Homo sapiens: one gene and its partners. The protein of the gene in region 3 interacts with the protein of the main gene of each other region in a pairwise test. Each region holds a gene or a part of one and is shown on either strand. Other genes may lie near its edges.

Region 1 (7,817 bases), on a different chromosome or scaffold from region 3:
CTAACAGAGTAAAACCCCGTTTCTACTAAAAAATACAAAAAATGAGACAGGCATGGTGGCGGGAGCCTGCAGTCCCAGCTACTCCGGAGGCTGAGGCAGGAGAATGGCGTGAACCCAGGAGGCAGAGGTTGCAGTGAGCCAAGATTGCACCACAGCACTCCAGCCCGGGCAACAGAGCGAGACTCCGTCTCAAAAAATAATAATAAAAATAAAAAGAAAAGAACAGGTATTCATGTAACACCTAATTCTAAGGCTAATTCAGAAATCAGAGACCCTTACAGATCAAGAGTGGCCATTTAAAAAGCAGACAAGAAAGAAATATGGCACATGAAGTATAAACCACAACTAATTAAACTAAAAGAAAGCATATCCAAAAAAAAAAGCATATCCAAAGTAAGGAAAGACATCCCTGATTCTGAAGCTGCCTTAAAGAAAGGCAGCCACATCCAGAGCCCCTGACTTTGGTTACTTTCCTAGAGCAATTCAAATTTACAAGAAAATTAAACCACTATTTGATCTTTAGTTTGAAATGGCAACATAAGCTGGAGAGAGGATGTGGAACTGCAGAGGTTCTCGAAGAGTTATAGGAAAAATTCATCAGAGAGGACCCGAAGGAAGACATCTAATAAGTAAATCTTAGTTGACAAACTTGGAGAAAAAGTATTTATAAACACCAATTTAAAAGGAAGATCTCAAGCTTAATAGTTAAAAATAAAGATAACCCAGAACAAGCAAGCCTAAAAAATTAATCAAAATTTGGTCGGGCGCGGTGGCTCACGCCTGTAATCCCAGCACTTTGGGAGGCCGAGGGCGGGTGGATCACGAGGTCAGGAGTTCGAGACCAGTCTGATCAACATGGTGAAACCCCGTCTATACTACAAATACAAAAAATTAGCCAGGTGTGGTGCTGCATGCCTGTAATCCCAGTTACTTGGGAAACTGAGGCAGGAGAATCGCTTCAACCAGGGAGGCGGAGGTTGCAGTGAGCCGAGATCACACCCCTGCACTCCAGCCTGGGTGACAGAGTGAGACTCCGTCTCAAAAAAAAAAAAAAAGTCAAAATTTTAAGTGTATCCTAGAAAAACTTTACAGCTTTTCTTTGAACCATTTAGGTCCGTTTAAAAGCTGAGCCTGCAAACGCTTAAATCTGCGGGTTCCACTGACTTATATCCTAAGAGGAGAAAACTGAGCAAGTAGCGAACTGTGGCTGAATTCAAAGATGCCGTTCTCCCACATCTTCATTTTACAGCACCTAATAGTTTCTGGAAGACAGCACCCAGAATTGACAGGATTTGTAATGCTTCAGTATTACCAGAAAAAAAACTGTGCACAGATACTTCCAGGATATGAACAATTTTAACTCACCAGTCACCATGTTGCATGTATTTCTGCTGCTTGTCCTGAGTTCTTAAGACTTCTAATATTCTGAAGAAGATAGAACAAAAAAGTTCCTTCCATCCTCAGCCTCTTTTTATTAATAATTTTAACTTTGTTCTTAAAAACAATACAGTACATTAGAAAGAACTACCCCACCATTATCAAATTTGATGGCTAATTTTACTTCCTCTTAGCTTCCTATTCCTTAAGCTTAATTGAGCAAGACTGTAAATCAAACTAGCAGATGTTTTGTATTAGAAAAAAGAGGTGCCTATTTCTCTAGAACAAACCTAGAACTTCCTTGACACCAAAACACAGCGGCAGGGTCAAAAAAAGAGCTGAAAAGGACTGAAATCCTACACCAAAAGTGACTTTTACAGTGATACACTATCAGATTTTAGTAATTTCTGCTGGGATTTCTGCAATTTCAAAAAAGGTAAAGCACTGATTCTCAGGTTGTTCCATTTTGTTTAAGGCCAACTTTTTGGCTGAGGCAAAGGTGGGCCTTTAATATAATAAAGTAAGCCCCTCCCACTTACGCAAAAGAAAAGCTGCGTTTAAGGATTTAAACTGGCATTTTAGAGCTCGGAGTTCACATGGGCCACATAAGCGAATTCCCTTCCGGAGCGCACAGAGGTGACGTGTATGAATTACGCTTATGGACGTATTAGTTTCTAATGAAAGATAAGCAGGTACCACTCAAGGGCCTTCTAATATTAACCTTCCCTGCCCGGCAGAAAGCCCAGTACAAGGTGAGGAAATCCGAAGGGGCTCACTGCCCTCTCAAACCAAGAGGGCTTGGTTTCCGAAGCAGAGAAACACCCTACCCAAGCACCCGCACCGTACTTGGGCCTCAAGTAACGGCATTCTTCGAGGAGAACGGGCAATCTCGCCCCCCTCACAGAGGAGCGGAACCGCAAGCCAGACAGCAAAGCTGGTTGGTTTCTCTCCAGGCCGAGGCCACGGATGCCCGGGAACGTCACCAGACCAGAAAGGACCCAATCCTCAACCTTCCCAGCGCAACGAGCCGCGGCCGGCCCTCTGCTCAGCAGAAGCCTCCTGCGCGCTCTCGAGGCAGCACCGCCACCCGATATCAGAGCGCGCGCCCCAAAACTGGGGGTCGTCACGGGCGCGCGCTCCAGAAAGCCGCGGTTGCCCACGGGCCACAGCTCCTAGAGCAGAGATATCCGGGCCGGGAACGCGCACGTCGGCGGCCACGCGCACCGAGAGCCGCACAGCGCGCGCGCGTAAAAACAGGCTCAGCCGCGCGCCCGCACCGGCGCGCCATCTCGCGCCGCGCCCACCCAAATCCCCGGGCCACCCCTCCCCCATCCACAGGGCGGGGTGCGCTAGCCCAGGAACGTTTTCGGCTCCGGAGCCGCCCCGAACTCTCCAGGGCCCAGCGGTAGTGGCCCGCCCGCCCCCGCCCGCCGTTGTGTGGGGTGGGCCCCCCGTCTCAGGCCTACAGCTTCGCCGCATCCCCACCCGCACTGGAGCCCTCACCCGGCGACGTCACTGCCGCCGCCGCCGCCGCCTCCGCTGCACCCGCCGGCCCCGCCGCACCGCCAGGGACCCTGGTTCTGCCGTCGTCGCTCCAAGACCGACAGGGTTTTCTCCTCACAGCTCCCTGGGCGCCATCTTACATTCAACCCTCACAGCCAATAGGAGCCGATTGCTCCTCTCGCGATAATCGGGGCGTCGGATCCCGCGAGATCTGGGACTGCCTACCGGCCAAAATTAAAGTGAACGCTTCAGCAGGGGAAGGTGGCCGCGCTTCTGGCCGCTAGAGCGGATAGTGGATCCTAGGGTATGGAGCGGCTCGCTCCGCCCATGGACGCCTCTCCATGTGGGGCGGAGCTAGGGCCGTGGCTTGGCCTAGTAGTGGAGTCTCGGAAGGCTAGGGCTCCAAGCTAGCTCTTTGGACCCACCTTCCGTCGCCCGCCAGAGCCTCCTTTGGTCGAGCACGCCCACGCGGGGCGGGGCCTGGCCAGGCTCGGCCTCTCGCTTAAGGTGGACCCCACAAACTTCTGTCCTGGGCCTGGCGTCCCCAGCCGTGCCCTGCCTGGGAAGCCTCTAGGTTGCTCACCTCCTGGAGGAGTCAGCATCTGGTACTCCCGCTGTCTGCTGCCATCTGAGTTCAGCCTTCCGCAGTTGGGTCCACCTTAAAGCGGGCCCCCGGGTAGCCTAGTGTTTGTATACAGGGAAAATGTGGAAGGCGTTAAAGCTGCAGGCACACTCGGGCCTCAGCAGCAGCCTACACTGCCCCCAGAGGGCTTCCAGCCTGCTGTAGACTCTTTTTGCCTCGGAGCTTTTGCCCTTGTTCCTCTTATCCTGGCAAACTCCCCGTAGTCTTTCGTGATTCCCTTCAGAAGTCACTTCGTTAGAGTAATGTTTTCTGAGGCCCAGGCTGGGTCAGGAACCTCTTCCAGTCTTGCACAGGCCCCAGGGAGACCGCTCCCATACAGTGCTTGGTCACCCATTTCCCCTCCCGTGAACTTGGAAGGCCACCACAGCACGTATGCCCCATCTCACTTTGCCTGGCACGTAGTAGGCACTCAAAAATTATATGCCGAATGGGCCGGGCACGGTGGCTGAAGTCTGTAATCCCAACACTTTGGGAGACCGAGGCGGGTGAATCACCTGAGGTCAGGAGTTTGAGACCAGCCTGGCCAACATGGTGAACCCCGTCTCTACTAAAAATACAAAATTAGCCGAGTGTGGTGGTGCATGCCTGTGATCCCAGCTACTTAAGAGGCTGAGGCAGGAAAACTGCTTGAACCTGGGAGGCAGAGGTTGCAGTGAGCTGAGATCACACCATTGCACTGCAGCTTGGGGGACAAGAGTGAGACTCCGTCTCAAAAATAAAAAAGAATTATAGGCTGATTGGGCGCAGTGGCTCACGCCTGCAATCCCAGCACTTTGGGAGGCCGAGGCGGGCAGATCACCTGGGGTCAGGAGTTCCAGACCAGTCTGGCCAATTTGGCAAAACCCCGTCTCTACTGAAATTACAAAAATTATTCAGGAGTGGTGGCGCCCGCCTGTAATCCCAGCTACTTGGGAGGCTGAGGCACGAGAATCGCTTGAACCCGGGAGGCAGAGGTTGCAGTGAGCCAAGATTGAGCCACTGCACTCCAGCCTGGGCTAGAGTGGAACTCCGTATCAAAAAAAAAAAAAAAAAATTATATGCTGAATGATCAGACTGGGAGCTAGGCCTCTCCACACCAGCAGAAACAAACCTTTTAGATCCCTCTGGCACAGGGGTCCTAACCATGGACAAACACCCCAGGGCCCTCCATTCTCTCAGACCAGGTGCGGAGGGTATGAATCCTACCCAGGCCCCTGCCTTTAAGCACCAAAAAGTGCACCGGTGCTTTCAAAGCTGTCAGTACCACTCTGTTCTGGGAAAGTCCATTCTCACAGACAAAATGTGCAAAAGGCACATCTCCATCCCCCAATCATACCACCACCACCAGCATGTCTTCAGGGCCTTCAGATGCTAGAAGTGCAGAGATAACACACAGACTCTAGGAGAATTTAGCTGTTCTTTATTGACATGGAATTTGGGGTGGCGAGGGTAGCCACACCCTCCAGGAGGATGAGGTAGGTTCAGTGCTTCCAGCTCACACCTTTCCTGGGTCTTCCTTCAGTGTGACAGTTCGGTTAAAGACAAGCTGGAGGGCAGAGGGAAAAGGATGACCACCAACCCAGAACAAGGCCAGGGAGGCCTGGGCAGGTTTCACCACAGACACCTCCCCCTAACATCCTTCTTAAGCCAAAGAAGCCGAGGGACTAAGGGTCAGGAGGCCCGGGTCCTCAATAACTTTGTGACTTTGGGTAAGGGACTGAATGGGGCTCTAGGCTATAGTATTATATGGACCATAACAACCACCGTGGGGGTCCAGGGTATAGTTTTATATGGATTATAACAACCACCATGTTTGCCCCCTACTTTAAGGAGTAAGAAAGACAGGGTGGGCTGGTGCAGTGGCTCACGCCTGTAATCTCAGCACTTTGGGAGGCTGAGACAGGCAGATAATCTGAGGTCAGGAGTTCAAGACCAGCCTGGCCAACATGGCAAAACCCCGTCTCTACTAAAAATACAAAAATTAGGCCAGGCGCAGTGGCTCACGCCTGTAATCCCAGCACTCTGGGAGGCCGAGGCAGGCGGATCATGAGATCAGGAGATCGAGACCATCCTGGCTAACACGGTGAAACCCCGTCTCTACTAAAAAATAGAAAAAATTAGCTGGGAGTGGTGGCGGGCGCCTGTAGTCCCAGCTATTTGGGAGGCTGAGGCGGGAGAATGGCGTGAACCCGGGAGGCAGAGCTTGCAGTGAGCCGAGATTGTGCCACTGCACTCCAGCCTGGGCGACATGTGAGACTCCGTCTCAAAAAAAAAAAAAAAAAAAAAAAAAAAAAAAAAAAAATTTGCCGGGCGTGGTAGCATGTGCCTGTAATCCCAGCTACTTGGAAGGCTGAGGCAGGAGAATGGCTTGAGCCTGGGAGGCGGAGGTTGCAGTGGGCCGAGATCGTGCCACTGTACTCCAGCCTGGGCAACAGGGCGAGATACTGTTTCAAAAAAAGAAAAAAAAAAAAAAAAGGATGGCAGGGTGGCTGGGCACAGTGGCTCATGCCTATAATCCCAGCACTCTAGGAGGCTGAGACAGGAGGACTGCTTGAAGCCAGTAATTCAAGACCAACCTGGGCAACATAGTGAGAACTTGCCTCTACAAAAAGTTTTAAAATTAGCCAGGCATGGTAGTGTGCACATGTAGTCTCAGCTAAGGCAGGAGAATAGCTTGAGCCCAGTAGTTTGAGGCCACAGTGAGCTATGATTGCACCACTTCACACCACCCTGGGCAAGAGTAAGACCCCGTCTCTAAAATAAATAAAAAGAAAGGTTATTAGCTGCCTTAACGAAAGATATTAAAAATAATATCTTTCGGGTGTTTCACCATGTTGGCCAGGGTGGTCTCGAACTCCTGACCTCTGGTGGTAAGCCCTGACCTCTGGTGATCAGCCTGCCTTGGCCTCCCAAAGTGCTGGGATTACAAGTGTGAGCCACCATGCCCTGCCTCAAAAAATAATAATTAAAAAAAAAAAAGAGGTCGGGTGCAGTGGCTCATGACTGTGATCCCAGCACTTTGGGAGGCCGAGGCGGGCAGATCATGAAGTCAGGAATTCGAGACCATCCTGGCCAACATGGTGAAACCCCATCTCTACTAAAAATACAAAAAATTAGCCGGGTGTGGTGGCAGGCGCCTGTAATCCCAGCTACTCGGGAGGCTGAGGCAGGAGAATCACTTGAACCTGGGAGGCAGAGGTTGCAGTGAGCCGAGATGGTGCCATTGCACTCCAGCCCCGGGCGACAGTGCAAGACTGTCTCAAAAAAAAAGGCAGCCTTCATACAAAATTTTGTGCCTGGAGTTATCCTCAGTGCCAGTTTCCTCACTAGTAGAATATGAATACCAACTCCCTCAGGTGGTGAGGATTAACTAAGGGAATGTATGCAGAGCACTTGGCACAATGAACGGCAGCCACTGTCACTGCTGCAGATGAGGGCAGGTGAGTAAAGTCAAGCACCTTTCCCTGATGGCTGTCTGGATCCACGGAGAAATATCCAAGACGCTCAAACTGGAACTTGTCGAAGGGTTTTGCCAGGGCCACAGAGCAGTCCACTAATGCTGCATCCACCACGTGTAGTGATGCCTGCAGGCAGGGAACTCAGGCAACCATCCAACCAGGGAGGCCTACCTCCCTCACCCCAAACCTCATGAACCTACCAGGTTCAGGTCACTTAAAAATCCACCAGGCACCTCAGTAGGATCTTCAGGGTTCTTGTGCTGGAATCTGCAGCCAAAGTGAAGGTCATACCCCCAGCTGGGCAGCCATAGCAGGCAATGTGCATCTTGTACCTGCCCCCACCCCAGCTCTGTTCACTCACAGTCGCTCATAGAGGCGAACCTCACACATCAAAGGCTGTGACACCCAGTGAATAAAGGCCTTTGGCTTCTCTCCAGCATCTGCCCGTCTGCAGGTCACCTCCAGACTCTCTACACAACCACTGGGGCCCTGGAAGTGGGGGGAGGGGAGCAGCAATTAGACCCGGGAACCACAACCAGGACTGCAGGCTATACTCACATCTTGGCCCCAGCAGGCACTGCAGTAGGAAGGCTGCAGCTGGCTCTCACCTTGACAACATGCTGCAGCTCAATGACGTAGCCTGTATGCCTCAGGCCCACAGGCTGGCCCCAAGCCAGGCGCTTAAATCCTGGCTCTGGCTCCTAGAGATAGGAAGTGGGGTAGACACATGAGGCTGCAAGGGTCAAACAAGTGGGGAAGCTTCCCTACCCCCGTGTCTGGCAAAGATTGGTTCATCTGAAGCAGGAAGTAGATGGACTGACAGAGATGAGGAGATGAAAGGTTCCCAGTACCAGACT
Region 2 (3,588 bases), on a different chromosome or scaffold from region 3:
CCCCACTTGGGGCTGGGCGCAGTGGCTCACACCTGCAATCCCAGCACTTTTGGAGGCCGAGGCAGGCGGATCACTTAAGGTCAGGAGTTCGAGACCAGCCTGGCCAACATGGTGAAACCCCGTCTACTAAAAATACAAAAATTAGCCAGCGTGGTGGCAAGTGCCCTAGTCCCAGCTACTTGAGAGGGTGACGCAGAATCGCTTGAACCTGGGAGGCAGAGGTTGCAGTGAGCTGAGATCATGCCACTGCACTCCAGCCTGGGTGACAGAAACTCCATTTAAAAAAAAAAAAAAAGTAGCCCATGTGGGTTACTTTGTAGCACAGCTCCTCCCTCCCAGGAAGATGAGGACCCACAGGAGGCCCCAGGCACAGTGGGAGAGGACAGGACCAGGATGTGGGGCACCTGTGCACACAGGCCTCCCTCCCCGCAGGGGCCAGGCCTCTACCCCACCACCCTCCGCCCTCCAACGGCTTCTCCATCCAACAAATAAATCAAGCTCTGAGGTGAAAGAAACAGTGCAGTTTTGTTGCTCACAGGGACCCGTCCCCACACACTGGAGAGACTTGAAGGTGGGGGCTCTGCCCATCCACTGGGGAATATCTGGGCCAGCCTAAAAGTCTGTGGGGCCTAGGCCTGGGCAGGCTCTGGGGGCTGTGGAGCCGAGGAGCCAGGCAGAGCGGGGTCCTTGGGGGCCAAGCCCATGCGTCGGATGCTGTCCTGGTACTTGCGGCGGCCGAGCTCCAAGACTGCGCGCACCTCTTCAGCCACGTCCTGCCGGTCACTCTGCTCCAGGGCCTGCACCAGGAGCCCCACAGCCCCTGGCTGCCCAGCCTGGCGCTCAGCCCAGGAGAAGAGCATGTGACGGATCTGCTCATCCAGATCATCCCTGCAGGCAGAGGATGGGCGACAGAGGGGTCCTGTCCACCTGCCCAGGACCCCCCACCACACTCTGCCTCGGAGTGTGGGGGAGTTCCCGGCTCCTGGGGCCAGGTGCGGCCAGACCTTTCCTTTCCAGCCTGGTGTTTGCCCTTCCCCCACCTCCCCTGGAAGAAACTTCTGTCAGAATCAGGTGGGCCCTCCAGGCAGCCAGGGCTCAGCCCTGGGGCTGGCAGCCAGCGGGCAGTGGGAGCCTCACCGGAACTCGTGCCGGATGCGCTGCACCTCCCGGTAGGACACCCCCAGGTGCAGGGCCACGGCTGGCCAGTCCAGACCCAGACGCCCAGCCACACTCAGCAGGTTGCTCTGCGTCAGAAAGCCGGTCTCGGCATCTCCCAGATTCAAGGGTGCCAAGGAGAGGCCAGCCCCCCGCCGTGGCCCCTCGGACCCTCGAAGTCTCTGTTGGAAGGAAAAAGTGCATTAAGCCCTGGGCTCCACCCCCAACTCCACCATGTCACCCTGGTCACCCCTGGGCCTCGGTCCTGCCCCGCCCCTCTGCTGTCCCTCAGTCCCACCGGCAGCTTGATGGGCAGAGTGGCCATCCACAGGGCGTCTGCGCCCTTCCTCTGCCGGGCAGCCTCAGCCTCCTCGGGCACCCGCACAGGCACCGCGCCACGGTAGAAGGACACCTGAAGGGGCATCGAATGGGGTTCGGAGTTCGGTCCTCTGCCCAAGCGGCCTGGGGGGCCTCTCCCCTCACCCACTCCCCTCGCCCACCTGGCCCCGCACAGCCTGAGCCTCCCGGTCCAGAGTGGTGGTCACGTATACCTCCTTCACATTCTTCAGGTGCGAGTAGAAGACAAAGCAGATTCTGCCCTCCACACAGTCAGGGCGGTCTAGGGGACAGGGGTGGGCTGAGCAAGGAGGGCTCGGGGAGGACGGTAAGGCTCCCCCTCCAGGGCAGGGAGCATCCACCAGCATCCCTACCAGCATCCACGTCGATGCCGCGCTCGAAGGCCGCAAAGAACTCTTCGCCCTCGAACATCTCCACCGTGTCAGAGGGCTCGGGGCCCCGGTACCGCTCCAGCAGCCGCCGAAGGGTGGCGTCCACCTGCGGGGAAGCCCGTGCAGCTCAGGACCCAAAGCTCTGCACCCCACCCCAGCCCTCTGGTCACCACCCTGCTGCCCTCCGGCCCGTGCCCCCACCTTGTTTCGGGGCAGGCACTGCAGCAGGACCTGCTCAGGGTCCCGGCGCCGCTGCAGAGCGATGAGGTTCACACGGTGCAGCCGCAGCCGCTCCCAGGCCTTCCGAGCCAGGCCTCCCACACAGTTCTTGGTGGTGTACCAGAGCCAGTACCTGGGAGAGCTGGGGGTGAGGAGGGCTGTACAGACTGGGGGAGGGGGGCTGAGAAAGCTGGGGGGCACTGACCAGGAGAAGTGTGTGACCTGGAAGCGTGCGTACAGGTGGGTGAGCTCCAGGACCACCTGAGCTGTGATGTCATCCCAGGTGGCTGCAGGAGGGGCCCAGTACAACAGGTGCAGGCGGGAGCGGTCCAGACTGAGGCCTGGGGATGGGAGGGGCAGCGAGCTGAGGCCTCCTGGCCGGAGACCCCCTCCACCCTATGGCCACAGGTCCAGGTATGCCCCATGGCTGCCTCTCACCTGTGATGCCAGAGGGCAGAGGCAGCTGCACGGTGACCGGTTGGAGGAAGCTGGGGGGACCGCTCTGTGACAGGCACAGCAGGGGGCTCACTGCAGCCTCTGGTTCTCCCAGGAGGGCCTGCAGCTCTCGGCCAGCCATGCGCACCACCTGGGGCAGACAGGCCCCCTGAGCACCTGCCTGTGGGCTGAGGCGCGGCCTGCCACCCTCAGTGCTGTCCTGGCCATACCTGCATGGAGACTCGACGAGGCTCCTCAGTGGCCCCAGGGGGGAAGATGACTTTGACCCCAGGATGACCCGAGGAGCACAGCAGTGTCCCCTCCGGTGGCACCAGGCAGGCATTGGACACAGGGCGGGAAACCACAAGGAACCAGGAGAAGTGGGGCACCTGGCAGTGAGCCCAGAGCCGCTGGGATGGGGGAGAGAGGAGGTCACAGGAGCCTGGGTCAGGGCACAGCCAGTCAGGGACACAGGGAGCAGGATCCAGGAGAGACGGGGCGGGGTGGAAGGTGCCAGGGACACAGGGAGCAGGATCCAGGAGGGACGGGGTGGGGTGGAAGTTGCCAGGGACACAGGGAAGCAGGATCCAGGAGGGACGGGGTGGGGTGGAAGGTGCCAGGGACATAGGGAAGCAGGATCCAGGAGGGACGGGGCAGGGTGGAAGGTGCCAGGGTGAGGCTCTGGGCAGAGGTGCACGGCTCAGGGCAGCAGCTCTCCACTCGCCACCGGCAGGCCTGGGTGGCCCTCACCTGGGGTGCCTCTTCCTCCAGGTAGGTCTCCAGGTCACCCCAGCTGTTGTCATTCCGGGTCCTGACCACCACTTCACGGCAGCGCCGGGCCTGCGGTGGGGTGAAGAGCAGCCACAGCCCCACATCCTGCCAGACAAGGATGGTGTGAGCACTGGAGCCATGCCCGGGCCCGCACACTGCCCCTGCCATGCCCTGGCCCACACACTGCCCCCGCCACGCCCTGTCCATGCCTGCTGGAAGGCCACCCCATGGGGCTGCAGCTCCAGCACATGGCTGAGCAGGGCGTCATGAGGACCCAGGG
Region 3 (7,000 bases):
AGAATGATGTGAATTTATCTTTTTTAAAGGGAGAATATAGTAGAAGAATAAGGTGAAGATAGGAAAACAGGGTATTTTATTTAACCTGGTATCCAAGCAGTCCAGATTCCCGTTCATCTGGTAGCTCCTCTGTGAATCGTCTCTTCTGTGCCTGGGGCTGACTTGGGAGTGGGGGCTGGGGCTGGGGCTGGGGCTGGGGGCCAGCAGGCAAGGCAGTTTTGACAGGAGCAGCAGGAATAAAAGGACCACCCATCGGACTCTGGGACCAAAACAAACCAAGGAAGAAAAAAAGTGTGAGAATGCCCAAGGAATAAGTAAACAATGATTACAATATACTTTAAGGATCAATAAGTATCATATGAATTTTGCATCTTCAGGTCCTTAGTTTCCTTCATGTATAATTTGGTAACATTATCACCTAAGCCTTCTCACCTTCATCCTAGGGAAACATGAAATTGACAACCTATATACAGTGCTTTGAACTTTTAAGAAAACTCTGTTATGCATTTGGGCTACTAGGAGTAAACATGACCATTAACAAACAGAACTCCAACCACTGACAGTCGATGTGATTAGCTTTCTGTAATAAGCTTTCTGTTATTTATAAATGCTGCTAATGCTTGTGGAAGAAGCAATTTCATCTTCCACTCCCTTAGTTATCACTAAGCTACTATGTCAAGATTAAGTCTAATGTTTGAAGATGTTGTTCCAAAAAGGAATAAGGGGTATCAGAAGACAGTATATATTACAGAGGAATAGGCAGGTCTGAAGAGAAAACTCTATACAGCCATGCATTGCTTAGCAATGGTAATACGTGTTTTGTTTTGTCTTGTTTTTGAGACAGAGTCTCAGTCTTGCTCTGTCTCCCAGGCTGGAGTGCAATGGTGCCAACTCGGCTCACTACAACCTCTGCCTACCAGGTTCAAGCGATTCTCTTGCCTCAGCCTGCCGAGGGACTACAGGCACGTGCCACCATGCACAACTAATTTTTTTTTGTACTTGTGATCCATCTGTCTCAGCTTCCCAAAGTGCTGGGATTACAGGTGTGAGCCACTACGCTGAGTGGGAATATGTTTTGAGAAATGCACTGCAAGGCAATTTTGTCATTTAACAAATGTGTACTTATACAAACTTAGATGAAAATAGCCTACTACACACCTAGGCTATACGATATGGCCTATTCTTCTAGGCTACAATCCTGTATAGCATGTTACTGTACTGAATGCTGTAACACAATGGTAAGTATTTGTGTATCTAAATGTAGAAAAGGTACAGTAAAAATATGCTACTATAATTTTACAGGACAAGCATCATATGTGCAGTCTATCACTGACTAAAACGTTGTAAGGTGGCTGACTGTATTAATAACACAGCTAACGTTTACTGACAGATTGGATCATCTTACTTAATCCTTGCAAACCTCTGAGATTTTTATCACTGTGCCCATTTTACATCTAAGGAAAACCAAACCCTAGACAGGGCAAGTTACATCCCAATATCACACAGCTCAAAAATGGGAAAGCAAGATCAACCCTGTCAATCTAATTCTAACTCCCAGTTTTTTTTTTTTTTTTTTTTTGAGTTTTGCTTGTCACCCAGGCTGGAGTGCAGTGATGCAATCTCGGCTCACTGCAACCTCTGACTCCTGGGTTCAAGCAATTCTCCTGCCTCAGCCTCCCAAGTAGCTGGGATTACAGATGCCTGCCACCGCGCCCAGCTAATTTTTGTATTTTTAGCAGAGACAGGGTTTCACCATGTTGACCAGGCTGGTCTTGAACTCCTGACCTCAAGTGATCCACCCGCCCCAACCTCCCAAAGTGCTGGGATTACAGCTACATGAGCCACTGCGGCTGCCTTAACTCCCTGCTTTTAACCACTCTGCTGTATTGCTTCCCAATTACAAAGGACTGACCTTCAAAAGTAGAGACCTACAGAGCTGTCTAAATATAAAAATTAAAATAATTTTGGCTGGGCACGGTGGCTTATGCCTGTAATCCTTGCACCATAATCCTAGCATTTTGGAAGTCCGAGGCTGCGGATCACCTGAGGTCAGGAGTTTGTGACCAGCCTGGCCAAAATGGTGAAACCCCATCTCTATTAAAAATACAAACATTAGGCCGGGCGCGGTGGCTCACGCCTGTAATCCCAGTACTTTGGGAGTCTGAGGTGGGCGGATCACGAGGTTAGGAGATCAAGACCATCCTGGCTAACAAGGTGAAACCCCATCTCCACTAAAAATACAAAACAATTAGCCAGGCATGGTGGCAGGCGCTTGTAGTCCCAGCTACTCGGGAGGCTGAGGCAGGAGAATCGCGTGAACCTGGGAGGCGGAGCTTGCAGTGAGCCAAGATGGTGCCACTGCACTCTAGCCTGGGTGACAGAATGAGATTCTGTCTCAAAAAATAATAATAAACAAAAATAAAATAAATAAATAAAATAAAATAAATTTGACTAGAGACCACAAATAAAATTTAGTTCATAGCTTTTTTGTTACACACTGTGCAACCCCCTTCAGTGCTCACAGCCCACAGGTAAGGGGACTGGGCAATGGTTCGAGGCTGCCATTTGCTATGGCATGGGTACACTATGAGAGGCCCACAGAGAAGGACCCACCATAAATCCATTACCATGCTCTCATTAAGTCTCTCCCCTGCCTCCAAGACCAGTATATATAATCCATCCAGATTATTATCCAGACATCTACTCTTTTCCTAAAATTCTACTTTCATGATTTAAGAAATTGTGGCCAGGTGCGGTGGCTCACACCTGTAATCCCAGGACTTGGGGAGGCAGAGGCAGTTGGATCATGAGGTCAGGAGATCGAGATCATCCTGGCTAACAGTGAAACCCCGTCTCTACTAAAAATACAAAAAAATTAGCCAGGCGTGGTGGTGGGTGCCTGTAGTCCCAGCTACTTGGGAGGCTGAGGCAGGAGAATGGCGTGAACCTGGGAGGCGGAGCTTGCAGTGAGCTGAGATGCGCCACTGCACTCCAGCCTGGGCAACAGAGCGAGACTCTGTCTCAAAAAAAAAATTTTTTTAAGTATACATTTCTTAAGTTATAAAAGAAACATACCAGCATTTATAATCCTTACATTTGAAAAGTTTATATATCTCTTACATAATGTTGCTTTTTAAAATTTTTTTTGAGACAGTCTCACTCTGTCACTGAGGCTGGAGTGCACTGGCACCATCTTGGTTCACTGCATCCATGACCTCCTAGGCTCAAGGGACCCTTCCATCTCAGCCTCTTAAGTAGCTGAAATACAGGTATGTGCCACCATGTCCAGTTAATTTTTTTTGTAGAGATGGAGTCTCACTATGTTGCCTAGGCTGGTCTCAAACTGTGCTAAAGCAATCCTGCCTCGGCCTCCCCAGATGCTGAGATTATGTTTCCTTCTAAGATTTGAAATGCTAACTCAGTTCCAATTACTGAGAGGTGTGGTGAAGGTAGCCCCATTCTCCTTGAGGACTTTGTTAACACTGCAAAGGTAAGGTTAGGCAAACAATGGCCAAGGGTATGGCAAACTATGACTGTGGCCTGCCACCTGTTTTGTAAATAAAGTTCTACTGGAGTACAACAGCTATGCTTATTCATTGAGGTATTATCCACGGGCTGCTTCTGCACTACAACCACCGAGTGTGATAGTTGTGACAGAGAATGTATGGCCCTTAAAGCCTAAAATATTTGCCATCTGACCCTTTATAGCAAGTGTGCCCACCATCCCCACTTTAAACAGCTATTTGGTGTGCAAGACTTGTGAAAATATAAACTTCAGGATGACATACACACATACACACTAATCCAAAATATTCAGGTAGGTTGGTGGTAGGAACACAGAAGACAGCAGGAAAAAGACATTCCACATCACATGATTTATTTCTGGAATACCACTACTTCCCCTCTTTCCCCAGTTTTTCCTAAATTCAGTAATATGTTGTTGCATATCCTGACATCCTACCTGTCCAGTGCTAGCTGGAGGCTGCACTTGTGTTATCGGGTATTGTGTTGGCACAGGTGGGACTCCAGTAGGTAATGCCGGCAAGACTCCAGGTGCTAATGAAACAGCTGGTGGCACTATGCTTGGTACTCCGTAGGGAGGTTGAACTGGCTGCTGAGGAGGGGGAACAACAGGGTAACCAGACTGATAGCCATTGGATGGATAATATGGTGGTTGAGGAGGGACACTACTTATAGCAGAGGGTTGTGTATAGCCTGAGGGGGAAGAAAAAAAGTGTTTAATCAGCTGCAGCAGAATGAGACAATTTAGCTGAATATTAAACTTAATATCTAGGGAAGAAAAATACTGAGGCATGAATGGCTTTCCAAATTACCCTAAATTAAAGGGAACATTAATAGTGCCCTGGCACAGTCTAGCCTCAAGTATCATAGTTACACATAACTATCACTAGCAAAATATTTTTTAAACACTTCAAGATGTACACACCTGGTAAAGGTACAGCAGTATTAATCTGATTCACAAATCTAGAGTATTCAGCATGAACCTGAAAGAGAGGGGGAAACAAATTAACATGGGACAGCCGAAGCTGTGCATTTACAAGGGTCTGATTACATAATTCTAGGACCAAAGCCATTAGGAATTAAAATATATCTACCAATGTTCCAATCAAATTTAAACTTGTTTAACCCACATTTTTTTTTTTTTTTGAGACAGTCTTGCTCTGTCACCCAGGCTGGAGTGCAGTGGCGCGATCTTGTATCACTGCAAATCTTTTTTTTTTTTTTTTTTTTGAGACAGTCTCACTCTGTCACCCAGGGTACAATGCAATGGCATGGTCTCAGCTCACTGCAACCTCCACCTTCACGGTTTAAGCGATTCTCCTGCTTCAGCCTCCCAAGTAGCTGGGACTACAGGCGCGTGCCACCGCACCCAGCTAGTTTTTGTATTTTTAGTAGAGACGGGGGTTTCACGATGTTGGCCAGGCTGGTCTCGAACTCCTGACCTCATTATCTGCCCGCCTTGGCCTCCCAAAGGGCTGGGATTACAGGCATGAGCCACCGTGTCCAACCCACCTCAACATTTTAATAAGGCAAATCTATAAATTATTAAGCCAATTTTGGGAATTAGGAGAATAATCCTGAATCCCCTAAACCATACTCAATTCTGGGGTACAGAATCATTTAGAAAGCCACAGAAATTAAGTAACTAGGAAATTTCCAAGTTGTTAGTATAACTGGTGAGACCTCAATTCATTCACATTTACTGGGTGACTTTTCCTCAAGGAGCTCACATTTAGTAAGGGTTTCGTATTTTCCTCATACTTCCTTCCTATATATTATTAAGTCCATAACCTCAAGTACCAACAAAGATGGGAAATAGTCAAGAAAATTATCCGGTACAAGGGTTGGTAAATCAGGTGCTATGTACAAAAGTAAAAAAACAAACAAAAAAACCAACCATGAGCTACCCAATAAGGCACCAGAGAACACAAGGTTGAACATATTCAGTGCAAAACCTGATTTCCTCTAAGTGCTATAAAGACAGTCCTGGCCGGGCGCGGTGGCTCACGCCTGTAATCCCAGCACTTTGGGAGGCCGAGGCAGGCGGATCACGAGGTCAGGAGATCGAGACCATCCCGGCTAAAACGGTGAAACCCCGTCTCTACTAAAAATACAAAAAAGTAGCCGGGCGTAGTGGCGGGCGCCTGTAGTCCCAGCTACTTGGGAGGCTGAGGCAGGAGAATGGCGTGAACCCGGGAGGCGGAGCTTGCAGTGAGCCGAGATCCCGCCACTGCACTCCAGCCTGGGCGACAGAAAAAAAAAAAAAAGACAGTCCTAAGGTTTAACTTTTGGTTGTTTATAGAATAAAAAGAATGCATAATCAAATGAGCAATCATCCCCCAAACATGTCTAACTGGTTTTAAATTATTATAGTTCTACCCTTACTTCAGACTGGAGTTATGCTAATACAAGCCAAAGAAAACCAACACAATGACCAGGTGCTAGGAGAGAGGAAAGGCATGGGATGATTTCTCTCTCAAAGACTCCAGAAGGAACCAATTCTGCCAGCACCTTGATTTCAGACTCTGCTTCCTGGACTGTGATAGAATAAATTTGTGTTATTTTAAGCCACCCAACTGCCATAACTTGTTATAGCAGTACTAGGAAACTAAACAGGTGAAAGAAACAGCTAAGACATACTCCAAAATGGCAATTGCTCTTCTGAATGAGTATCAGACAAATACAACTCACTGTTTGCAAAAGATTCTCACAAAGCTTCTTGGCAGCAGCCAGGCCTTCTGGTTTGGGGTGACTGCAAAGAAATAACCAGGAATTCAAAGGAGAGAAAAATAAATAAAAGATGCAGAATTCTGCTTTCATTTTCCATGCTATTTTACATATCTACATTAATACATTCACTGTAGCTCAAATCTAGGCCTCTGAAAATCACAAAACAGAAACACAAAACATAAGTCTTTTAAGATATAACCACTATCATTACCACAAATATTTTATTAGTCTTTCTCTGAGTAATGGTACTTCTCGATATAAAAATGTTTAAAGTTCATAAAATTACTATAAAACGTATTAATATTGACATAGGTTTAAATGAAAATTATTTCAGACTTATCACAGCTCACTTTAAGATTTGCTTTTTTTTGGCCGGGCGTGGTGGTTCACGCCTGTAATCCCAGCACTTTGGGAGACCGAGACAGGCGGATCACGAGGTCAGGAGATCGAGACCATCCTGGCTAACACGGTGAAACCCCATCTCTACTAAAAATACAAAAAATTAGCCGGGCATGTTGGCGGGTGCCTATAGTCCCAGCTACTTGGGACGCTGAGGCAGGAGGCGACAGAATCTTGCTCTGTTGCCCAGGCTGGAGTGCAGTGGCGCGATCTCAGCTCACTGCAAGCTCCACCTCCTGGGTTCACGTCATTCTCCTGCCTCAGCCCCCGAGTTGCTGGCACTACAGGCGCCTGCCACCATGCCTGGCTAATTTTTTTGTTTTATTTTTAGTAGAAACGGGATTTCACT
Region 4 (7,639 bases), on a different chromosome or scaffold from region 3:
GTATTCATGAAGTACCACTAGGCAAAGAATTGTGAGTTGGAGTGGGCAAAAGTAGGAGCAGAAGTGCAGAGACAGGTGCTTAGTCTTGGATATGCCATTAGTTACATAATCTTGACAGACCAGTGACCTGGATTTAGTCCATTAAAATGGGCTAAACTACCATGGGACATGACTCGCCTGACTCTCCACAGAGGCTCATTCTGAACACATTTTGCTAAGTAAAAAGGAAAAAAAAAATCAAAACAATACAAATACCAGCTGTTATAGGATTTAGTGCAGGAAAAGAAAAAGAGAAAGAAGTTAAAACAAATTTAGAATATATAATATTTAGAATAAAACAGATTAAATGAACAAAGTAAAGTAGCTGAAAATTTCAAGGGGGGAGAGACGAAGTACAATAAGGGCCTCAATAACTCCAACCTATTCTACTTTTCCTTTTATCCCTGATGCTTTGTTCTGCCTCTAGTGGATGAGTTTTCAACTAATAAGACAGAAATGCTAACACAGGTTGCAGTTAAACACACTGCTCCTTCCATTCTAAATATCCCAGTACTGACACTAAAATAATTACTCAGGAACACCAATGGTAAATAAAACCTCTATGGCTATGTTTCTCAAGGTCCAAGAATCCTAGTTACTTGAGGCCATGGTCTCTGGATTTTAAGAATTGTCTAGGATAATTTCATGAGCATATTCTGGATAATGCGGATGACAATCATTATAAGCCAGTACTACTGTGTGATTTCAGTGCTCCCATCTGGATTTATAACTACTACATAATTTTATAACTAAGTCCTAATTTTATTGCATTAAGCAGGTAGATTTAATACATAAATGTTAGGTTTTGCCATGTGAAGGTCAAATGACCATCTGTACAAATAAAGGTTCTACAGTAATTTCATAGAAAAAGTGGTAAATAACTATAAGGCAACATTAGTAGAGGCATTCCAAACTCCCATCAGTGCCATATACATATTGTGAGGAGCATTAGTTTCACATCATCCCTAGCATTACCTGATGTAGATTTAAATTTTACCGAATGTGTAATTTCATTTAGTTTTATAATTTATAAATGTATTTTTATTTGTTTGTTTGTTTTTTGAGACAGAATCTCACTCTGTTGCCCAAACTGAAGTGCAGTGGCAGGATCTCGGCTCACTGCAACCTCTGCCTCCCAGGTTCAACTGATCCTCTTGCCTCAGCCTCCTGAGTAGCTGGGATTACAGGCACCTGCCACCAAGCCCAGCTAATCTTGTATTTTTAGTAGAGGCAGGGTTTCATCATGTTGGCCAGGCAGGTCTCGAACCCCTGACCTCAGGTGATCCATCTGCCTCGGCTTTCCAAAGTGCTGGGATTTCAGGCATGAGCCACCACGCGCCCAGCCCATATATTGTTTTATAGTCAAACAATGGCTTCAGGTCAGGTGTGGTGGCTCATGCCTATAATCCCAGCACTTTGGGAGGCCGAGGTGGAAGGATTGCTTGAGGCCAGGAGTTCGAGACCAGCCCAGGCAACACAGTGAAATCCCGTCTCTACGAAAATTTTAAAAATTAGCCAGGTGGGCCAGGGGCGGTAGCTCACGCCTTTAATCCCAGCACTTTGGGAGGCTGAGGTGGGTGGATCACCTGAGGTCAGAAGTTCGAAACCAGCCTGGCCAACATGATGGGGTTTCACCCCATCTCTACTAAAAATACAAAAATTAGCCGGGTGTGGTTGCGCACGCCTGTAATCCCAGCTACTCGGGAGGCTGCAGCAGGAGAACTGCTTGAACCCAGGGGGCGGAGGCTGCAGTGAGCCAAGATCGTGCCACTGCACTCCAGCCTGGGCAACAGAGCGAGACTCCGTCTCAAAAAAAAAAAAAAAAAAAAAGAAAAGAAAAGAAAAAATTAGCCAGGTGTGGTGGTGAATGCCTGTAGTCCCAGCTACTAGGGAGGCTGAGGTGGGAGGACTGCTTGAGCCTGGGAGGTGGAGGCTGCTGTGAGCCGTGGTTGTGCACATCCCTCCTGGGCAACAGAACAAGACCCTGTCTCAAAAATAAATAAATGAGCTTCATAACTAGTATTATGTTGATATATATTTGAATAACATAATAATTTGGGTAAACCAAGGGTCTCATATTAGTCAAGTTTGAGAAAAACTTGCAAAACGTCTAATTAATACCTTCAACTCCTGCTGGTTTTACGAAGAAAAACATTCACCGAATACTTACTACGTGTGCAAGGACTGTGCTAGCTGCTGTAATTCATGAAGCTTGCAACTGTAATATTAGATACTTTATAAGTTACACAGAATCAGTGGGCGATCATTCACCAAGACTTCCTCTTCCTGCCTTTAGTATGTTAACATTGTTTCTGACATGTGTTTCTAAATAACTACTTGGGGGCAGAAGTCACAGCTATTTTTCCTCCGACACAATATTTGACTTCCTTCTGACACTGGGGCTTCAAGTTAGGGCTGGAGTGGACAGAGCAATTTCACAACACAGAAAACAGAATAAAGAGTCCATCACCTGAGTCTCTCAGTCGAGCAAGTTCCTGCCGACGTTTCTTTCGTTTCTCCTTCTTCAGGGCGGCCCTGTACTTTTTGTGGCTGGAAGATTAAGACATATACACGACGATCAGCGGCTACAATGCAGCGCTGCCCGAGCTCCCCGCTCCTCTGTGCCCAATGAAAGGAAATAGTTCGGGTGCTGAGGAGAGAAACCTTGCTTCCTGTATTTTAATTACAGAACAGCCATCTATCATCGCCTCATCCTCCCACTCCCAGACAGTTCTTCTCCATCCGCCAACCTGATCCTCTCCTCGCTTGCCTGAGCCACAGCCGCCCGTGCAAGTCCGGGGAGGGCACCAGAGCGCGCACCAGGAAGGAATGGAGCTGCCGCGGTGGCTCACTTAGCTTGGCCCAGCTTCTCTTTTCTTCCTGCCACCACATCCTCCATGCCCACGATCGGCCCGCTCGCCTGCTCATCTCCCCGTACGGCGCTTACCTTGGTTTCTCGGGAAACGTCATCTTCTCGGGCGCAGCCATCTTGCCGGCACCGCCCCGCCCCTCCAGGTCTGGCAGGAAAGGGCGGGCCTAAGAGTCGAGACGGGCACGCGCAGGCGCGGGTACCGAGCAACCTCCACCAGCGTGGGACTTGAAACGGAAAGCCGGAGGTACCCTTCGGCGGCTCGTCTTCCAGAACCCTGCTCAAATAAATACCTCCTTCCAGCAAAAATACTCTGGGGCTTTTACCCCGCCCTAGAAGTAATTGTCGCTTCAGCACTTGCCCAGTGCTGTATCACTGTCTCCCTCCTCGCCCTAGCAGGACGTGTTGTGGCTAGGCGGTTAAAGTCGTACTCTGCCGCTTTTCTCAGCATCCACTCATGAAGTCACATCGCGCACAGAGCTGCTCGCCCGGCTTTATTTCCGACCTGTCCAGGTTCCGCGTCCTTCCGCCGATCCACCTATCAGCGCCTCAGACAAAGCTCCAGACTTCGCTCCCTGCCAGTCACACCTGTTCTGGTCCCTTAAGCAAACCTAACTCCCAGGGCTGCAAAGCTGTTACCTCTGCCCCTGAGGAGTTTACAATCGAGGGGGCAGAGAAGAACCAATACATAATATGATGCAGGCAAAGATGAAGTTTACCTAACATAGTCCACCAAGGGATTCAGGGAGAGCTCTCTTTTTTTTCCTTTTTTCTTTTTTTTTCAGTATCACATGCGACTCAACTGCAGTATCAGGGACAGCTTTCTGATGCTAAGAGTTGAGTTTGGAAAGAAGATGCCCTTTACCCAGAAGGAGAAGGGTGGGAATGCAGTTACAGTCAGATCAGCATAAGCAAAGGCGCTGAAAGGTGAAAGTGGAATATGCTGGGAACAGCAAGAATTTTGGCAATCGAATTTATTTATTTATTCATTTCTTATATATTAGAGACAGGGTCTTGTCTTTCACCCAGGTTGGAGTGCAGTGGCGCAATCACGACTCGCTGCAGCTTCGACCTCCTGGGGTCAAGCAATCCTTCCACCTCAGCCTCCCGAGTAGCTGGGAATACAGGCGCGAGCCACCACGCCCGCCCAGCTATCCAATTTAAAGTGCAGTTCGAGGCTGGGTGCAGCGGCTCACGCCTGTAATCCCAGCACTTTGGGAGGCCTAGGCGGGTGGATCACCTGAGGTCAGGAGTTCGTCAGCCTGGCCAACATGGTGAAACCCCGTCTCTACTAAAAATACAAAATTAGCCGGGTGTGGTGGCACATGCCTGTAGTCCCAGCTACTCTGGAGGCTGAAACAGGAGAACTGCTTGAACCCAGGAGGTGGCGGCCGCAGTGAGCCGAGATGGCACCACTGCCCTCCAGCCTGGGCAACAGAGCAAGGCTCCGTCTCAAAAAAACAAAACAAAATAAAGTGCAATTCGAGAATATCAAGGAATATAGTTGTTGTGATGGGCTGGGAGGGCTAGGTTAAGGAGGGCCTGGTGTGCCATGTTAAGACGCTCTGTTTACATTCTGTAGAGACAACAGTGAACCGTTGAAAGCTTTTTAAATAGAGGCTTATTGTGGTTGTGTTTGTGTTTTAGGTAAATCACTCTGCTTTGCAATATAAAGGATTTAAAAGATAAAACTAGAGTATCACAATAATCTAGGTGAGAGGTGTTGAGGAATTAAACTGGGGCAATGAGAGTAGGGATTGAGAAACTAAAAATCATCCCAACTAATAATCAGACTGTAATGTACACATACAAGGCCAGGGACAAGGCCAAGCAAAAAATGTTCCTCACAAGGATGCATTACAGCTGTAAAATGACTAATAACCTCTATCTTTTGAGTGATTGAATAGCTTCCTTGGCCTACCTTTGTTCCGTTCTCCTCCAAATTAAAGTTTCTGAGATACTCAATTACTAAACTGCCTTCCTTCCCCTAATCCCTCCTTAGAATTACTCAGCTGAAGCCCAAACTCTGCATAAAACCTCACCCTAATCTCTCTTATACTGACACACTTGGAGCAACACATATGCCCTTCACCCCCAAGTTGACCTTGTCCAGCTCAGTGCATTGGTTGGCTGTGATCTTGAGTAAATTCCTTAATGTCTACTCCTGTTTTCTCATTTGTAAAAATCAAGATAGTAATAATAGTTCCCATCTCATAACCCTTTTATTGTGAAAACTGAGTAAGATAAGCCATGTTATATGCTGATACAGTGCCTAGCAATAGTGAATGCCTCCAAAACTTTAGCTGTTACATCATCTCATCACCATCATCATTAGTGTGAAAACTTCCTGACCCCTCAAGAGGGGATGAGGCGCTGTATGCATTTCCAGTACAAGTATTCCACCTTTTATAACATCTATCATGGTTTACTACACATTGTCACCTTTACCTTTCTGCTTCTTGACTAAATCTTAAACTAAACTCTCTAGTTGGAGGTTTGGCAGTTGTATCCCCAAACTAGAGTGCCCTGGATGGCACAGAATGTTGTAGCTATGCAACTCACCAATTTTGCTGGTCCCTGTGATCAGAATTTACGCTGAGAATTGCTGCCCGTTCTGAAAGCATCAGTGTTTAAGTTGTTGTAACATTTCTTCTGAATCAGACCAGACTTTCACTTCAGAACAATAAGTAACAATTCCTTCTAAGAAATCTCGGCTCACTGCAACCTCCGCCTCCTGGGCTCAAGCGATTCTTCTGCCTCAGCCTCCTGCGTAGCTGGGATTACAGGTGCATGCCACAACCACCTGGCTAATTTTTGTATTTTTTAGTAGAGACGGGGTTTCACCATATTGGCCAGGCTGTTCTCGAACTCTTGACCTCCGGTAATCTGCCCGCCTCGGCCTCCCAAAATGCTGGGATTACAGGCATGAGCCACCGCACCCGGCCATAGATTTTTTAGTGAGTTAGAAATGAATGTAAATTTCCTTTTATAGGAGTTAGACATTTATTTTTAACAATTAACCACTGAATTCATTTTCAGAAATAGGCCTGAATTGCTTGTTAATTTCATTACAGGAAGTAACTCTAAAAGCCAATTCCACTTCCAAACTATAATTACCATCATCTGAATTTAACAGGGAAAGACATCTTCCAAGACTTCTTTTGGGCGGATGCTTAGTTTTAGAATAGCCAACTTTACCCTAACCCATGTACAAGACAGTTCTCCAGGTGGCCTTGGACTGACCCAGTTCTCCCTTCTTCCTTGCTTGTAGTTCTTAAGAATAACTGTAGAATGCACTGGGAATGCAATATCCTGATATGGAGGAACTGCCTGAAACAGGTTGGCCTTGTTGTTGTCCCTCCTAGGGAATGTAACATCTTGATTTAGGGAACTGTTTGAGACAGCGAGGTTGTGTTCCTCTTTCCCCTGGAAGGAGGATGTACTTTAAAGCTTTGCCCAATGAGTTATGTGGCTCCTATGGTATATAACCCAAGGCAGGCTGTGGTGCAAGTGGGGCACGTACAATCAAGACTCCATCAGCCCCGCCCTGGGCAGCTTTCTTGAGCCCTGGGGGACTGGCTCACAATGGAGCCAGGGCCTCTTTTGTCCCTTGCTTCCTGTCTGTAAGTAATAAATCTGCTTCATGTAATGTATTGGGTGTGAGTGTGTTCTGTCACAATGGAATCAGACAGGTTGGTAACCAGTGTACACTGAACCTGCTTGGCACCATGTAGCCCTGGGAAAGGAGAAAGGCGGTCACAGCTTGCCCTATATGGTGATGCCAGCACACTGTGCACTGTACTGTGCAACAGAAAAAGGTGCACTGAGGAGGATCGGCTGCTTCTTCCCATTGTTGCTTCTTTAGTAAATCCCCTATGAGTTTTTAGTCGCTTTCTAATCTACAAGTTAAAGGATATCTCATTAATTTTACAGATATATACATATACTGTAACAATAGGAAGGAAGTCTTTCACCAACCACTAATACTGTAAAGAAAGCATTGTATCGATCTAGTATTATTTAATGAAGACGGACAGCAATTTTAATACAATCTTCTTTTCCAAGACCTTTGACAGACCTTAGGCCCATTTTCCACCTTTATGTCTAGGAAAGTATAAGTAAAACACTTTTGAGGGCATAAAAAACACAAGCTTCTTGTTAAGGTGTATCAGTAGCCAGGGAAATCTGCTGTGCCCCTTTGAGGGTCATCTAACTAAGGCATGGAGAAAGAAACTGCCTCAAGTCAGTTTCTATCACCTCTGCAGGGAAGCTGGCCATGCAAACCAGGACATGGTTCAAAGTGAAAAAGAGTGTGGTTAATAATCATGCCAGAACACCAGGTATAAGATGTAAGGGCAAGTCAGGCATTCTGTACATTGCTTCTCCCTTCAGTTTGGAAAACTCACTGCAGTAGGGTTTTGACTTATCGTTTCACAAGACAGCTAGGAAGGCCAGGCACAGTGGCTCACACCTGTAATCCCAGCACTTTGGGAGGCCAAGACGGGTGGATCACGAGGTCAGATCGAGACCATCCTGGTTAACACGGTGAAACCCTGTCTCTACTTAAAATACAAAAAATAGCCGGGTGTGGTGGCGGGCGCCTGTAGTCCCAGCTACTCAGGAGGCTGAGGCAGGAGAATGGCGTGAACCCGGGAGGCGGAGCTTGCAGTGAGCCGAGATCGCGCCACTGCACTCCAGCCCGGGTGACAGCGCGACTCTGTCTCAAAAAAA

What was found.
Region 1: the proteins of KHDC4 (region 3) and QRICH1 interact in binary tests that used the Homo sapiens proteins (3 or more experiments, as listed by UniProt).
Region 2: the proteins of KHDC4 (region 3) and PIDD1 interact in binary tests that used the Homo sapiens proteins (3 or more experiments, as listed by UniProt).
Region 4: the proteins of KHDC4 (region 3) and ZRSR2 interact in binary tests that used the Homo sapiens proteins (3 or more experiments, as listed by UniProt).

The regions. Positions count from the first base shown.
Region 1 is NC_000003.12:49,091,032-49,098,848, forward strand, and holds the start of QRICH1 (transcriptional regulator QRICH1), read right to left. Parts: upstream 3,041-7,817; 5' UTR 2,881-3,040; exon of another isoform or gene 2,863-2,880; intron 2,580-2,862; exon of another isoform or gene 1,917-2,579; intron 1,426-1,916; exon of another isoform or gene 1,366-1,425; intron 1-1,365. Other genes in the region: QARS1 (glutamine--tRNA ligase), read right to left, coding at 4,998-5,048, 6,961-7,086, 7,161-7,227, 7,322-7,449, 7,569-7,661. UniProt on the Homo sapiens protein: Transcriptional regulator that acts as a mediator of the integrated stress response (ISR) through transcriptional control of protein homeostasis under conditions of ER stress.
Region 2 is NC_000011.10:798,678-802,265, forward strand, and holds the end of PIDD1 (p53-induced death domain-containing protein 1), read right to left. Parts: coding exon 3,518-3,588; intron 3,414-3,517; coding exon 3,288-3,413; intron 2,948-3,287; coding exon 2,768-2,947; intron 2,689-2,767; coding exon 2,541-2,688; intron 2,444-2,540; coding exon 2,308-2,443; coding exon of another isoform or gene 2,236-2,307; coding exon 2,085-2,235; intron 1,990-2,084; coding exon 1,866-1,989; intron 1,775-1,865; coding exon 1,656-1,774; intron 1,568-1,655; coding exon 1,454-1,567; intron 1,338-1,453; coding exon 1,138-1,337; intron 889-1,137; coding exon 630-888; 3' UTR 507-629; downstream 1-506. UniProt on the Homo sapiens protein: Component of the DNA damage/stress response pathway that functions downstream of p53/TP53 and can either promote cell survival or apoptosis.
Region 3 is NC_000001.11:155,917,414-155,924,413, forward strand, and holds part of KHDC4 (KH homology domain-containing protein 4), read right to left. Parts: intron 6,275-7,000; coding exon 6,214-6,274; intron 4,506-6,213; coding exon 4,448-4,505; intron 4,216-4,447; coding exon 3,962-4,215; intron 2,630-3,961; exon of another isoform or gene 2,496-2,629; intron 260-2,495; coding exon 86-259; intron 1-85.
Region 4 is NC_000023.11:15,785,884-15,793,522, reverse strand, and holds the start of ZRSR2 (U2 small nuclear ribonucleoprotein auxiliary factor 35 kDa subunit-related protein 2), read right to left. Parts: upstream 3,040-7,639; 5' UTR 3,028-3,039; coding exon 2,987-3,027; intron 2,590-2,986; coding exon 2,510-2,589; intron 2,504-2,509; exon of another isoform or gene 1-2,503. UniProt on the Homo sapiens protein: Pre-mRNA-binding protein required for splicing of both U2- and U12-type introns. Selectively interacts with the 3'-splice site of U2- and U12-type pre-mRNAs and promotes different steps in U2 and U12 intron splicing.